Linked DNA regions of Homo sapiens. The protein of the gene in region 2 purifies or fractionates together with the protein of the main gene of each other region. This does not show direct contact. Each region holds a gene or a part of one and is shown on either strand. Other genes may lie near its edges.

Region 1 (3,500 bases), on a different chromosome or scaffold from region 2:
GCTCCGCGGTGCTGCTGTCTCCCGCACTCTGGTCGCCTGTGTCTTTGCTTTCCCGTCTGTGGGTCAGCCTAGATCACCCCCGTTGACTGTGTCTGACTTTTTTCCTCTTTTCTGCTGCGTCTTGTTTGTTATTAGGTCTATTGAATGAATTCATTTTGGATCTTGTGTTTTTCAGTTTTATGATTTTTTGCAGTTCCACTTCTCTTTGCAATTCTCCATCTTCCCCACGTTGTTCATCTTTTCTTTGAAATTCCTTAATCTGCTTATTGCAGTGATTTGAAGGGCCTTGTCTGGTGATTCGGACGTTTGGATTTCCTGAGACTTCTTCCCTTCAGTTGGGGATCACATCTTTGTGTCCTTACATGCTTTGTGACTTTGAAGGGTTCCAGTCTTTGTCTTTGAAAGAATGATATTATTTCTTCCCCGGAGATTCCTGCCTTTCTCTGCCAGGCAGCTGCGGTGAGGCACTCGTCACTGCAGTCCAGTGAGGAGATGAGATGGGCTGGGGCTGGACTGTGGCATCGGCATCCGTCGACCCCAGTTTCAACGCCGTGTGGGCGAGATCTGTCCTGTGTGTCCTGGGCCTCCCTTAGGTGCTGACCCCACAGCACGAAGAGTGCCCTCCTCCCTCCGCCACACCCTTCGGTGCTCCGTGTGGAACACCGCGGGTAGAGAGGGCCATGGAAGGAATGCGGCTCACCAGCTCTTCCTGAAGCTTTATGGGCGACGCGAGAACCCGCTAACGAGTGAGGAACTTAAAACGTATTTATATGTAAGCAAGAAATGTTTATTATGGAGTAAAATATAAAATTCACATGACTCTTTTAAATAAAAGACTTCACCCGTTCGCTAGTCACTGCATGCCTGTCCATACTGGGAAGCATGCTGACTTCAGGTCTGCGGGCAGCCAGGCCCTCCTGCCAGCTTCCCCAAGGTGTACATCCGCCCTCTCTGTGTAGCTGGAAGAGCCTGACCACTCACGTCTCTCCAGGCCACAGATCCCGAAGCCCTTTTCTAGCTCTGTTCACGATTGCTCTTCCCCTCACAGGCCAGACGCAGCTGTCCCGCGCAACATGGCTTCTGTGGGAAGGGGTCAGAGTTTGAGGCACCCCTTTTAGAAGGGAGGCGCTGCAGACTCTTGAATGTGAACCATGAGAACGCTGTGCCTGGAGCCAGGAGCCTCCGCCACGGGCCCCAGTGCCTGCTCATCTTCCTACCGAGTGCTTCCTTTCCTTCGTAGGTTTGGGAAAAGTTCTTAAGTTCTGAAACGCCGCGGATCAATGTCTTTATGGCAGTGCCTACAATATACACCAAGCTGATGGAGTACTACGACAGGCATTTTACCCAGCCGCACGCCCAGGATTTCTTGCGTGCAGTTTGTGAAGAAAAAATTAGGTAAGTGAAAAGAGCCCACTTTCTCGTTCAGAAAGTCTTAAAGATCAACAGATACGACTTATTTCTAATAAATCACTCCTACTAAGTTCTGGGAAGCAGTGCTTTCCATTTCCTTTCAATGTTCCCTCTCTCTCTACCCGTCTCCGTCTCTACCTCTCTAACTGTCTCTCTCTCTCTCTACCCGTCTGTATGTATATCTGTAATCTCTTCCACGTCGATAGCTGCCTGGATTCTGTATCGCTCTCTCTGTCACACTCTGTCTCTCTATCTCTCTCTGTCTCTCTTTGTCTCTCTCTCTCCATCTCTCCATCTATCTGTCTTCTCTGTCTCTCTTGTCAGACTCTCCATCTCTGTCTTCTCTCTGTCTCTCTCCATCGCTCTTCATCTGTCTCTCCGTCTTCTCTTTCTCTATCTCTCCTGTCTCTCCATCTGTCTCTATCTCTCCATCTGTCTTTGTCTCCGTCTGTCTGTCTGCTCTCTCTCCTGTCCGTCTCTCTCTCTCTCTGTCATGGCGTCTGAAGGACAAGGGTGAGGACAGTGAGCTGACCCGCTTGCTCCTGCTTCATCTGCCCACATGTCCCACGGCGCCTGCCTCTCCTATGCAGTCTCTCTGCCTTCGTGGGCAGCCCTGTGAGGCCTCCTGCCTGGGGCACGTTCTGCTGCTTTTCCTCTCAGCCCCGCTCCTCCCCTCCCAGCTCCCTGGATAAACCCCTCCCTCCCAGGACAAGCTGGTCTTTTGGGCCACCCAGGGGCGTGTTTGCTCTGCACTCTCCCATGAACCTGCAGGCGTGGGAACGTTTCTTTTCCCTCGTGGCTGTTGAGGTGTGGTTCACTAACTGGAAACGCACACGTGTGGCTCAGTGAGTCTTCACACGCATCACAGGCCCGCACCTCCAGCAGAGTCGTGGGTGGGGTATTTTTTCTTTTTGTGAGAGGGAGGGGTGGCGTGGAGGGTGCACTGCAGGAACTGAAGGCTCCACTGCCATCCAGTTTCCAGTGGGATGTGTGTGTCTGTGGCTGCCGCGCGCTCCTCCCAGTCCCCAGGAAGTGCACAGGGAAGCGGCACCTTTGTTCCTGGAGAGAATTCCGGGTTGTCCAAGGCACATGTCTGAACCGCTTCGCTCTCTTTGCCGTTCCCTTGCCCCTTTTCTGTGAGGCCACCGGAGCCCATGGTTTTGCTGCTGCTACTGCTGGGATACCCTGGGGCTGGGCAGGCCCCAAGCTGAGCAGGGTGAGCACAACGTTTTACCAAATCTAAGGAACCAAGGGCAAGAACGAGGTCAGTGAAGGAGAGGATCAGGTGATTTCTGGGGTGACAGAGGCAATGAGACCTCGGCCATCTGGATCTCCCAGCGGGGGTCCTGTCAGTGGTGCCTCCTCGTAAAGCAGGGGCAGCAGCAGGGACCACTCCGCTCAGACCGCAAACAAAAGCGCCTTCCCTACTGCCCGTGAGGCTGCGGGAAATGCTGTGTGAGAGCGCGGGGACTCGGAGTTCTCAGGGCCCGTGTTCTCCTGCCAAGCCTGAGCTGACCCTGTGGGCCAAGATGGCTGCAGTTCTGCGGGTGGTTCTGAGCCCCTTGGGTGTGCCCGGCCCCACCCCTTGGGTGCCGCGGCCATTCACCCATGTCCGCGTTCTGCTGCAGAGCCTGCAAGCTGAGCCGGCTGTAGTCCCCGGATGTGCCTGGCCGCAGCCTGCAGCGCCGTGGCTGTTCACCCGTGATCAGCTCCGTGGTCGGCAGCTGCACGGTCACTGCTGTTCTTGAGCGTGGTTGTGAACAGCGCAGGAACTTTGCAGGGGACACCGCGGACCCTAAGCACATTGTTTACCCTCATTAGCTGTTGGACCTGCTTCCTTCTAAAATACACCCAACAGATCGTTTTCAAAAAACAAAGTCACGCCGTAGCGCAGACTGCAGCGTTGGTCCCGGGTGTCGCACAGTGGTGCTGTACCCACGGCCTGGGGCTCCTGCACTCGTGAAGGAGCTGCCACTTTTGCAAGCAAGGGCCGCCTCCTGAGGGGCTAAACCTGCCACCTTTGCACGCGAGAGCCACGTCCCAAGGGGCTAAACCTGCCTTTGGTTGTGCCGCGTAGGCTGATGGTCTCA
Region 2 (3,500 bases):
GGAACAGAAGCCAAGACCCGGTAGAAAATCCAAGGTGTTTAAATATAAATAAGAGCGATTCCCACAGCCCCACGGTGCTGGCCAGCCTCACAGGTGCCCGCTGGTTCTGTGACCCATCCCAGGCACACGCTCCCCTGGCTGGGCGCCTGGCCAGGGCTCCCCTGTGGCTGGCGTGTGGAGACACGTGGGCCCTTCTCCACGTGCCCACGAGGGCCGTAGCAGGCTCCAAGGAGGCCCAGCCCCGGCCAGCCTGTGTGGACCCCGCCGGCCTGCGGCGCCCGGAGCTGCTGACTGTGTCAGAGCCCGGCTGCCCAGCGCCCCGGCGCCCCTCCCTCCAGCTGCCCAGCCTGGGATCCGTCCGCTGTCTGTCTCCTGAACCAGGGAGTCTGACCCACTCACAGCTCCCATGGGGTCCGTGCAGCCAAGGCCCCGCAGCCACACTCACTCTCCGCCCCACAGTGGCTCCTGGGGCTGATGGCTGGGTGATCCCAGGGGGTCCCCAGGCTCTTCCGATTGGCTCAGGTGCCCTCTCCTGCGGTGGCGGGCCCACCTGGGTGCCTGCCAGGGCCATCAGGTGCCCTGACCCCCTGGCTGGAGGGAGGATGGGAAGTGGGCTCCGAGGGCCTCACAGGTGGGCTCTCAGGAGAGGCCCCACCTTTGGCAGGAGTTGGTGGGTGGGGGGACCCTGTTCTTCCCCAGAGGCCTGGGCAGCCTGGGTCCCTACAGCACTGGCAGCCCAGGCCCCCCTACAGGTCCTCCGAGGGGATCAGCATCCGCTTCTCCAGGCTCCGGCTCTTCCTGCTCCCGCCGGAGCCGCCGCTGGGGTGGGTGCCGGGCCTGGGCGCCTCGTGCGTGGCCTGCTGCGTGTAGTGCTGGTAGGCGGGGGAGAAGTTGTGGATGGCGTCCTGCACGATGTCCTGGGGGCTCACTGTCTCCCTGATGCCGCTGGAGATGCTCTGCATGGGTGCCGGGGGGGCTGGGGGAGGGCAGTGTATGAGCCCCACCATCCCCCCTGCACTCCAGCTCCCCGGACAAGTCCCCTCCCAGGATGCCCAGGGCTGTAGCTCCTGCATGTCCAGGTCTGGCCTCGGCCAGCAGAGGGTGGCCCCAGACCCCTGGACCCCAGCCCAGCTTGCTCCACCCAGCACCGGGCCCGTCCCTGGCCAGACCCCTGACAAGGACCACGTCCCCTAGAGCTTCCGAGGGGCTCCAAGCAGCGGAGTACGCCTTTGGCTGGCCTCGGGTGGGCACCCTGGTCTCTCCACAGTGACTGATGAGAAGCCGGCAGGCCACAGGCTGTCTCCGCCCTAATAGGGGGTGTGCCTGGCAGGGGACACCCATCCCCCATCACCATTGGGGTCCGGGACCGCCTGGACCCCACACAGCCCAGGTGCCTGTCCGGAGCCGGATGCCCTTTGCCCGTCTCCCTGCCCAGCGAGCTGGCATTCCTGGGCCTCGAGAATGGCACGGACACAGACACGGTGCCCGGGGCAGGGCTGTGCGCTCCGGGTGCCCCAGCTGGAAGGCAGGGTGTACCTGGTGAATTCTCCTTCTTCTCTGCGTACACCTGGCAGGGGAAGGCATAACGCAGGGCCACGGAGGCGAACAGCATCTCCACGCAGATGATGAAGTTCTGGTAGCCGGCGGCCAGCGTGCCAGCCCCCAGCTTGTTCCCGCCGCTGGTCTCCACCTCCGGGATGACCCCGCACCGCTCCAGGATGGCCAGCAGCAGCCCTGCGGACGCCACGGCCGCTCAGCCCCAGCCCCAGACGGGGTCTGCAGGGGAGGAAGAGGCCCCAGACCCCGCAGCGGCTCCTCTGACGGGTGCTGTGACCCCGTCCGTGTAGTCTCGTCCCACCCCAGGAGACTGAGGTTCAGGGGGGCAGGGCGCCTCCAAAGTCGGGGGTCTCGGCACAGCAGGTGCTCAGGAGCTCTCCCGGGCCCGCCCTGCCACTCCAGCCCCAGATCCTGGGCCCGTGCCCTGTCTGGTGGCCATCCTCCTCTGCCAAAGTGGGCTGTCAGTGCCCTGGCCTGGCCCAGGGCCCAGTGGGGGCCAGGATTCAGGAAACACCTGGTGTGGCCTCTGTGCGACCTCTCTCCACCTGCTGGCGGGACCTCCCCACTCCCCCGTGCTGGCGGGACCTCTCCACTCCCTCATGCCCGCAGGTTCTACCCTGGCTTCCAGCTGACCTGTGCTGCAGCTGGAGAAACTGAAGCACGTGGGGGCTGGGGAAAGGGGTGTGAGGTGACCCCAGGCTCACTGGACTGCAGCCCCCACCTCGGTAGCACCCCTGCCCCACCTGCCCCACACACCTTGCCAGAACGACAGGAAGATGACGGCTTTGATGGTGAGGAACTTGAGGACGGGCTGGAAGGGCCGCAGGAGCTCCCTGGTGGTGAAGTAGAAGAGGAACAGGGCGTAGAGGGCGAGGCTGACGGAGGCGTTGTAGATGAGGGTCACATAGAGGTAGCCGCTGCGGACACTAGGACAGACGGGGGCTGTGGTCAGGGCGGTCCCATGACCCCGCCACTGTCCCCACCCTAGAGCCACCGCCGCTGCACCCTCAGCCTGGTCCCCACCCTGAGCTTGGGAGCATGGGCCCTGCAGGGATCCTGCCCCGATCTGATCCTCACTCCAGGGCCTGCAGGAGAGCGTGGGGAGCTGGGGGTGGCTGGGGGGCCTATGCAGGGGTAGGGCAGGGACGTGGCCGTTCTCCCTACCGGCCCTGCTCCTCCTCGTCCCAGGATCCTGTCCACTGCTCAGGCAGCATCCAGGCTGCCTCTGTCGGAACGCCACCTCCCAACCCCGTCCACCTGGCCACTGCCTGAAGATCCTCTGTGTGGTGGACACACAGGTGTCGTTCCCGTGTGAGTGTGTGCACATAGGTGTGTGTGCATGTATGTCGTGTGCACACAGGTGGGGTGCGCTGTGTGTGTGCACATATTGCGTGCATGTGAGTGTACATACATGTGTGGTGGTGTGTGCACGGTTTGCGCATGTGCTGTGTGCATGTGTGAACATGTGATGCACGTGTGTGATGTGTGCGCACAGGTGACAGCACATGTGTCCCCGTGTGTGAGCATCTGTGTGGTGTTGGTGAGCACCTTGGACCTTCGCAGGGGTCCAAGGGGTGAGCTGTGTGGACCTTCGCAGGGGTCCTCCTTGTGCTGGGTGGCTGCCTGTCTGTTCAGCCAACAGGTCGGGGTGGACCTTGGTCCCCTTGGCCCAGGTGCCCTTAATGCCAAGAGTGCTCAAGGCTGGGCGGGGGCTGGGGCCATCACTGCCTGGCCAGAAGCCCTGGGGTCCTCGGCGCAGATGCTGGCACAGACGCTAGACTCACCCCAGCCGTGTCCTGTGAGGGGAGGTCCAGGCCCCCGGCCTTGGCAGGCACCGAGGTCCTTGTGGAGAAGAAGTGGGTACCTGTCTTGGGCGGGGCCCCTAGCCCAGCCGGACGCCAGGCCTGCCTTGTTGGGCCCCACCGCTGGGCCCCAGGGGACCC
Region 3 (3,500 bases), on a different chromosome or scaffold from region 2:
AGGGAGGACAGGCAGAAACCAGGAATGCCAACTTAGTAATACTGACAATTTCTCTAACATTTTCAGCCCTTCATGCTGAGCCAACTATCACCATCAATCACAATGTTCAGTCTAGGGAAATGTTAAGAAACAAAGAAAAAGCTGGAGAAATACAATCTAATAAAAAGGCCCTTGGAATGTAAAGATTATATTCAATATTAAACTTCTTCTGGGCATCTCACTCTGTCGCCCAGGCTGGAGTACAGTGGTGCGATCTCGGCTCACCGCAATCTTTGCCTCCCAGGTTCAAGCGATTCTCCTGCCTCAGCCTCCCGAGTAGCTGGTATTACAGGCGCCTGACACCACACCTGGCTAATTTTTCTATTTTTAGTAGAGACAGGGTTTCACCATGTTGGCCAGGCTGGTCTTGAATCCTGACCTCAGGTGACTGCCTCAGCCTCCCAAAGTGCTGGGATTACAGGCGTGAGCCACGGTGTCCAGCAATATTAAACTTCTGAGTTGGAAAATGCTTGACATTTCCAACCATTTCCAGTATATTCTGAACCTTCCTACAGGGGGCTGCATGCTGAACTTGTTTTTAACAACTGGCTGTTGGGAGCCAGGTCTCTGTCTCTGATACATTCTTTTCTCCCCACTTACTTCGTTGTCTTGTGAATAAGCCAGGCTTCGTGTTGGCCATGCAGCTGCTCTAGATAGGCCAGCTCAATTCCTTTCTCCTCCTCCCTGGCCCTCTGGTACAGTCTCTTCAAACAAACCTAAAAGACAGTCCCCAAGCCCTGATGAGCTCTTTGCTGTTTTGGCTGCTACAATGCAGTCTTCGGGGGCTCTGAGGCCCACCCATAATGTCTATCTTGGGCATTACAAGCCATGCCTTTGCTTCTGCTGTCTTGTTTTCTTATGCAATCAGAGGATCTACACCATTCTTTTCCCATCTCCACCTTAAACCTGCTCTTCCTCTGAAGTATCCTAAGTCGGTTAATGATGAACATCATCCATCCAGTCATCCAAGCCACGGACCTGGAATTTTCCTTGTTTTTCCTTCTCCCTACTATATCTGGGAAGTCACTCAATTCTCTTTCATCTCTCTAGAATGTTCTCTCCTTGCCTCTCCTCTCACCTCTGCCCTGGTCGGGTCCTCTTTACTTCTTACCTGGATTATGGCAAGAGCCTTCTGGTTCTGCCTCCTGGAGGCAGGGAAGCATATGGACAGAGTACAGGCCTTAAGGTCAGAAAGTCCAGGAGTAAATTCCTGCCTTCATAAGGTACTAGCAGTGCAGTCCTTGTGGGCTTCTATTTCCTCATTGTCTACCCATCCACAGGTCACTGAGGTAAGTTGTATTGAGCTCCTGGCAAAAGCTGTTCCCTCCTTCCAGTTTTTCCCCTTCACTCCACCCGTCTGTAGTACGGCAATATAATGACATGACTTTCCTTGCTGAAAATACTTCACAGGCTCTTTACCGCCTACAGCCATAGCCCCAGGGTTCAAAGCAGTATGTATGAATAGCATTGCATTTATAAAATGTTAGGTAATTTGAAATATCTCTTTCATGTCATACCAAACATTCACTCAGGAATAGAATGTAAAATTTGCACAGGTCAAAGATAAAACAAAGAAGTGGAAAAACAAGTGAGGCTTGAGACTAACTCTCCTCCCCCGCTGCTTTGCAGAGTGTACATAATTCTATTCTGCATTCATCTGGTAGTGAAGTTTGATGCACACTGGCTCAGAAAATGACATCTTCTTTACCTGTCACACAAAGCTACCCCTCCTACTTCTCAACTGCCTTAGCTCTTCCCCTGGACTCACTGCTTTAGCCAGATTTGACCTCTTTCCTGGGGAACAGGCCAGGCTCTTTCACACCTCAAAATTTTTGCTCCAAATGTTTGTTTTGACTGAATTATCCTCAGTCCTCTCTCTGCTTGACAAACATTTCATTATTCAATATCATCTGTCCTGGAAGAACAGATGGATTAACCCACTGATTTAGGACTTCACTCTTTTTTTTTGAGACAGAGTCTTGCTCTGTTGCCAGGCTGGAGTGCAGTGGCGCGATCTCAGCTCACTGCAACCTCTGCCTCCCAGGTTCAAGTGATTCTCTTGCCTCAGCCTCTCAAGTAGCTGGGACTACAGGCGGGAGCCACCACGCCCAACTAATTTTTTGTATTTTTAGTAGAGATGGGGTTTCACCATGTCGGCCAGGATGGTCTCGATCTCTTGGCATCGTGATCTGCCCGCTTCGGCTTCTCAAAATGCTGGGATTACAGGCGTGAGCCACCGTGCCCGGCCAGGACTTCCCTCTTTCAATAACTTACTTAAGAAATGAAAACTTAATTTCCAAATGTAGTACACAATAATCCCAAAGACTTGGGAGTCTTTGCTGTTTCCCTCTTATCTTACCTTTTCTCTAAGGAAATGAAATTATAGAAACAAATTTTATTAATGATCAAAAGGTATATGCACTTGCAATTATATACTGCCAGACTGCCTCCTTAGAGGTTAACCAATTTATATTCCCACCAGAAAGGTAGCTTTAGGATTTCTAAGCATAGCAAAGCTATCATCTCATTTTCCTTTCTGAGAAAAAAAATGTTGTCTGTTTCGTGAAAATAAATTTTTTTAAAATGTGACTTTATGTTTCCAAGTACACACACAAAGGCAGAACAATTCTTTTTAGGAAAGCTATTTATAATTATTCATTCACTGCTTGCAGACAAACCTTGACACTAACATTGATCTATTAAAATAAGCTAACATATTTCTATTTACTATTAATTTCCTTAACAGAGCAAATGGATTTCCCTGAGAAGTCTAAGTCTTAACTGGTGGCAGTATTGAGTGGGGAAAAAAAAAGAGGTCGAAGTAAACTCCTACTATGAGCATTTGGCATAACTCTTGCTTTACTGATATCGCTATAACAAATTCTATTTAAAAAAATCCCGTGCAAACAGTGCTTTAGTCTGACCCCTCTTCATCTCAGTCCTCATGAGGAAGACACACCTGAATGTGAACAGGAAAGATAGTGTAGCTACAAGTGGCGAGGGAGAGACCCTTTACTGGTCTTCTTAACCTGTCCCACCCAGGAAGAAGAACTGCTGCTCTGCTTGCTTGGAGTCAGAAACAGAAAATGGAAAGTGACTGCTAGTGGGTCTTTTCACTATGCCTCTCAAGCCCAAACCCAGGTGCCATTTGTCCCATGCACCTCCTGCATGCTGTCCCCATGCTGTGCCAGTCCCAGGTAGGGCCTGGCTTTTTGATGTACATTGATCAGCTGCACTCTCTTGATTCCATGGGGCTGGCTAGGAACACTGAGGCCTAGCTATTTCTCTTTTGAGTTTTAAAATTGTTAGCTTGCTTGTGTTTTAAAAAAAATTTTTAGAGATGGGGTCTCCCTATGTTGACCATGCTCGTCTTGAGCTCCTGGCCTCAAGCAATCCTCCCATCTCAGCCTCCCAAAGTGCTGGGATTACAGGCGTGAGTCACCGTGCCCGGCCTGAGTTGC
Region 4 (3,500 bases), on a different chromosome or scaffold from region 2:
GAGAGTTGCAGCCAGCACGTGACCAGCAGAGCTGGGACCGGTGGTCCAGCATGTTTCTCTGTGGCGTGAATTGGGGCCCACTGGGGAGTCTGGACCCTGTTCCTGGACTGGTGGGAGTTCGGATGGGGGTGTCAGGGAAGGTGAGCGCTCCTCAGGGTCAGCTGTGTGGCTTTCTGCTCTCAGAGCCTCCTTCCCTGCCTCCCTGAGGGAGAGAGGCCGCTGGTTACCACTTTCCAACCTGGAGCAGGTGACTTCATCTCTCTGTGCCTCAGTTTTCTTGGCTTGAAATTGGGGATAGTAATGGGAGGTTGTTGTGAGGCTTTGGTCAGACAAAGCACAGCGTACTTCGTCCAGAGTTGGGCAGCTGTTAAGTGCTTTCAGCTGCTGTTAGCTGCTGCTTCCCACGGAGGGAGGAAACTGAGGCCGGGAGAGTGAAGTGACCTGTCTGAAGCTCCCTCCCACTGGGGAAATGGGGGAGCGGTTTCCAGCACGCGTGGGGAGGAGGGGCCCAACCCTGGCAGCCGACATAGGGTAGGCTCCAATGTCCCTCGTGGACGAGGGCTCAGGAGAACCTCACAAAAAGCTGTGCCCACTTCTGGGAATGGCTGGCTCTCGGGGGCCTTGGGTTCTCATCTGTCCTCTGCTGTTGTGTTGGGTAGTTTCAGTTTTCCCATCAGTGTAATGGGGCTGTTGGACCTGATCACCTCTGATGCCCTTCACCCCTCCCTGGGCCTCAGTTTCCTCATCTGTGGAGTGGGAGAATGGGCCTGGCCCGTGGGTCTCTGGGATGTTGGCCAGCGCTCACTCTGAGCCTCCGCCCGCTCTGGGCTGCTCCGTGCTCGTGTTGGTCCCGGGCCATGGATGGCGTAGGTGGTGTTTTGGGCCCCTGGGCAACCGGGGGAGCCAGCTCCTCTGGTCATTTCCCCACCCCCGACCCCTGTAGAGTGCGGCGGAAAGAACTTCCACTTCGTGCACCGCTCGGCCGACGTGGAGAGCGTGGTGAGCGGGACCCTCCGCTCAGCCTTCGAGTACGGTGGCCAGAAGTGTTCCGCGTGCTCGCGTCTCTACGTGCCGCACTCGCTGTGGCCGCAGATCAAAGGGCGGCTGCTGGAGGAGCACAGTCGGATCAAAGTGGGCGACGTGAGTGGCACCGTCACCCCCGCCGCGGCCCAGCGGGGGGCTGATGGGATTGGGTCCCTGGGAGGCTCCTCTGCAGCCGGGGCTGGGGTGTGCGGGGAGGGGTCTCCCTTGGTCTCGGCCTGCAGTGACTCGTCTCTTCTGGCGCCTCCCTTGCCTCCAGCCTGCAGAGGATTTTGGGACCTTCTTCTCTGCAGTGATTGATGCCAAGGTACGGGGTGGGAAGTGGGCGTTCCTGGGTGGGGGCAAGCCCTGGAGTGGGTGGAAGAGGGAGGAAGAGATACAGGGTACCCTGACCCAGGGCATGACCCAGCCCCACTGCTTTGATCAAGGCAGCTCAGCAGCCACACACGCACCTCCAGCTTCAGAAAGGGCAGAATCAGCCGTAGCCAGACAAGAGCTCATCTTGCGGCCACCCTGGAACCAGGCTCAGCGAGCTCCTAATAGCATTTGCATGAGTGCATGTACACGTGTGTTTGTGAATGTGTTCATATAGGGCTCCGTGTGGCTCCACATGTAGGTCTTTCCATATAAACACGTACATATCCATTTGCACATAAGCACACACACGCATATGTCGATAAGTCCACCCACACGCATGTACATGGAGAAGGCATGCAGATCCCTACATGCTTAGACATGTGACCATGCATATGCCTATATATGCATTGATTGATGTGTGTCTGTGTTTATATGCGAGTGCACCTGTAGTACTAACACACGTACACTTGTGTGTGTACACACACACACACACACAGTGTTCATGTCTGTCCTTGTCTCTGCTGTGGCTCAGCCAGACCCTGGCTTTTGCCCTTGGCGTCCCCTACCCCTGCCCCTGTTTCAGGAGTTGGGCCCTTCAGGTGCAGGTGTTTCGGGGTGAGTGTGTTGTGGGGGCTGCCGCAGGGATGCCTTCCCAGCCTCTTAGACCTCCCTCCTCCCTGCCCACCCCAGTCCTTTGCCCGTATCAAGAAGTGGCTGGAGCACGCACGCTCCTCACCCAGCCTCACCATCCTGGCCGGGGGCAAGTGTGATGACTCCGTGGGCTACTTTGTGGAGCCCTGCATCGTGGAGAGCAAGGACCCTCAGGAGCCCATCATGAAGGAGGTGACTGGGGTGGGCAGCCTGGGGTCCAGAGGAGGACAATCCCACCGGAGCACAGCACACACACAGTTCTCCTGGAGACATTCTCCCATTTCACAGATGAGGCCCTAAAGGGAGACCCTAAAAGGGAATGCCTCCGACCGGGAGAGAGTAGAGCCAGGTTTTGAGCTCAGGCTGCCTAACTCCAAATCCGGGGCTGTGTCCTTGACCCTGGCTGGGGTCTGAGCATTTCCAGTGCCCTCAGCAACCACGTCCACTGCAGCCATCATAATGGCTGACACTGATAGACTTTTACTGTGGGGCCAGCTGTGGCTGAGCACTTGGCTGAGATGACGTGGGTGTTACTGTTCCCATTTTACAGATGAGAAACTGAGGTCAAGGCACTTGCCCAAGTTGGTAGTGCAGGGCTGGAGTGTGCCTGAGAAGATCTTCCCCCCAGCCCCTTGGTGGCAGAGGGAACCATGAACCCTTCTGGAGGGAATGGTATCTCTGGGCAACTCTCATGCCAGCTGCTGCTGGAAGCCTCTGGGACCTGGACCCTTAGTTCTCCGGGTGTGGGTTTGGCAGGGAGAGCCAGAAAATGTTTGCATCTTTTGCCGGCTTGTGGTGGGATGGACAGGACAGGGAGCTGGGCACGTTGCTGTCCTGGAGGGAACCCAGGAGGAGGCGACACCTGACCCTTCTTGCAGACACTGAAGTGTAAACTGAGGCCCAGGGACTGGGGAGAGGGTGAGCCAGAGCAGGGGCACTGGGAGGGCTCAGGGCCCTGGTCCCTGGTCCCGTGGAGGGTCTGACGCCGGGGCCTCTCTCCTAGGAGATCTTCGGGCCTGTACTGTCTGTGTACGTCTACCCGGATGACAAGTACAAGGAGACGCTGCAGCTGGTTGACAGCACCACCAGCTATGGCCTCACGGGGGCAGTGTTCTCCCAGGATAAGTGAGTGGCCAGGCCGCAGCCCTGGTGCTGTGCTCCGGGTGTCCTGTCCGTGTCCCCATCCCCACCTCCTGGACGTGGTTCCCAGTAATAATGCTGCCCCTACCTTCTCTCTGTCCCCTCCCCTCAGCCCAGACAGGCAGCCAGGGCTCGCCACATGGGCCCACAGCAGCAGGCTCTTTGTTGCCGGTACTGGTGGTGCCGGTGCCAGGGTGCCACTGGGGACCAGTGGATCTGAACCTCTAGGGGCAGGGCTAGGAATTGGTGTCTTCGACTGGCTCTGCGGGATCTGGTGTTGCCCCACTGAGTGAGGTGATTGTCCCATGCTA

The links. Proteins that work in one complex are often made in the same cells at the same time.
Region 1: the proteins of TMEM184A (region 2) and ACSF3 purify together in Homo sapiens (affinity purification with mass spectrometry; 2 studies listed by BioGRID and IntAct, with this or other methods). This does not show direct contact.
Region 3: the proteins of TMEM184A (region 2) and DGUOK purify together in Homo sapiens (affinity purification with mass spectrometry; 2 studies listed by BioGRID and IntAct, with this or other methods). This does not show direct contact.
Region 4: the proteins of TMEM184A (region 2) and ALDH4A1 purify together in Homo sapiens (affinity purification with mass spectrometry; 2 studies listed by BioGRID and IntAct, with this or other methods). This does not show direct contact.

What each region holds. Positions count from the first base shown.
Region 1 is NC_000016.10:89,110,852-89,114,351, forward strand, and holds part of ACSF3 (malonate--CoA ligase ACSF3, mitochondrial isoform 1 precursor), read left to right. Parts: intron 1-1,240; coding exon 1,241-1,395; intron 1,396-3,487; coding exon 3,488-3,500. UniProt on the Homo sapiens protein: Catalyzes the initial reaction in intramitochondrial fatty acid synthesis, by activating malonate and methylmalonate, but not acetate, into their respective CoA thioester. May have some preference toward very-long-chain substrates.
Region 2 is NC_000007.14:1,546,206-1,549,705, forward strand, and holds part of TMEM184A (transmembrane protein 184A), read right to left. Parts: intron 2,484-3,500; coding exon 2,314-2,483; intron 1,735-2,313; coding exon 1,537-1,734; intron 977-1,536; coding exon 747-976; 3' UTR 1-746. UniProt on the Homo sapiens protein: Acts as a heparin receptor in vascular cells. May be involved in vesicle transport in exocrine cells and Sertoli cells.
Region 3 is NC_000002.12:73,954,380-73,957,879, reverse strand, and holds part of DGUOK (deoxyguanosine kinase, mitochondrial isoform a precursor), read right to left. Parts: intron 756-3,500; coding exon 640-755; intron 1-639.
Region 4 is NC_000001.11:18,875,056-18,878,555, reverse strand, and holds part of ALDH4A1 (delta-1-pyrroline-5-carboxylate dehydrogenase, mitochondrial isoform a precursor), read left to right. Parts: intron 1-943; coding exon 944-1,140; intron 1,141-1,300; coding exon 1,301-1,348; intron 1,349-2,088; coding exon 2,089-2,241; intron 2,242-3,052; coding exon 3,053-3,174; intron 3,175-3,500. UniProt on the Homo sapiens protein: Irreversible conversion of delta-1-pyrroline-5-carboxylate (P5C), derived either from proline or ornithine, to glutamate. This is a necessary step in the pathway interconnecting the urea and tricarboxylic acid cycles.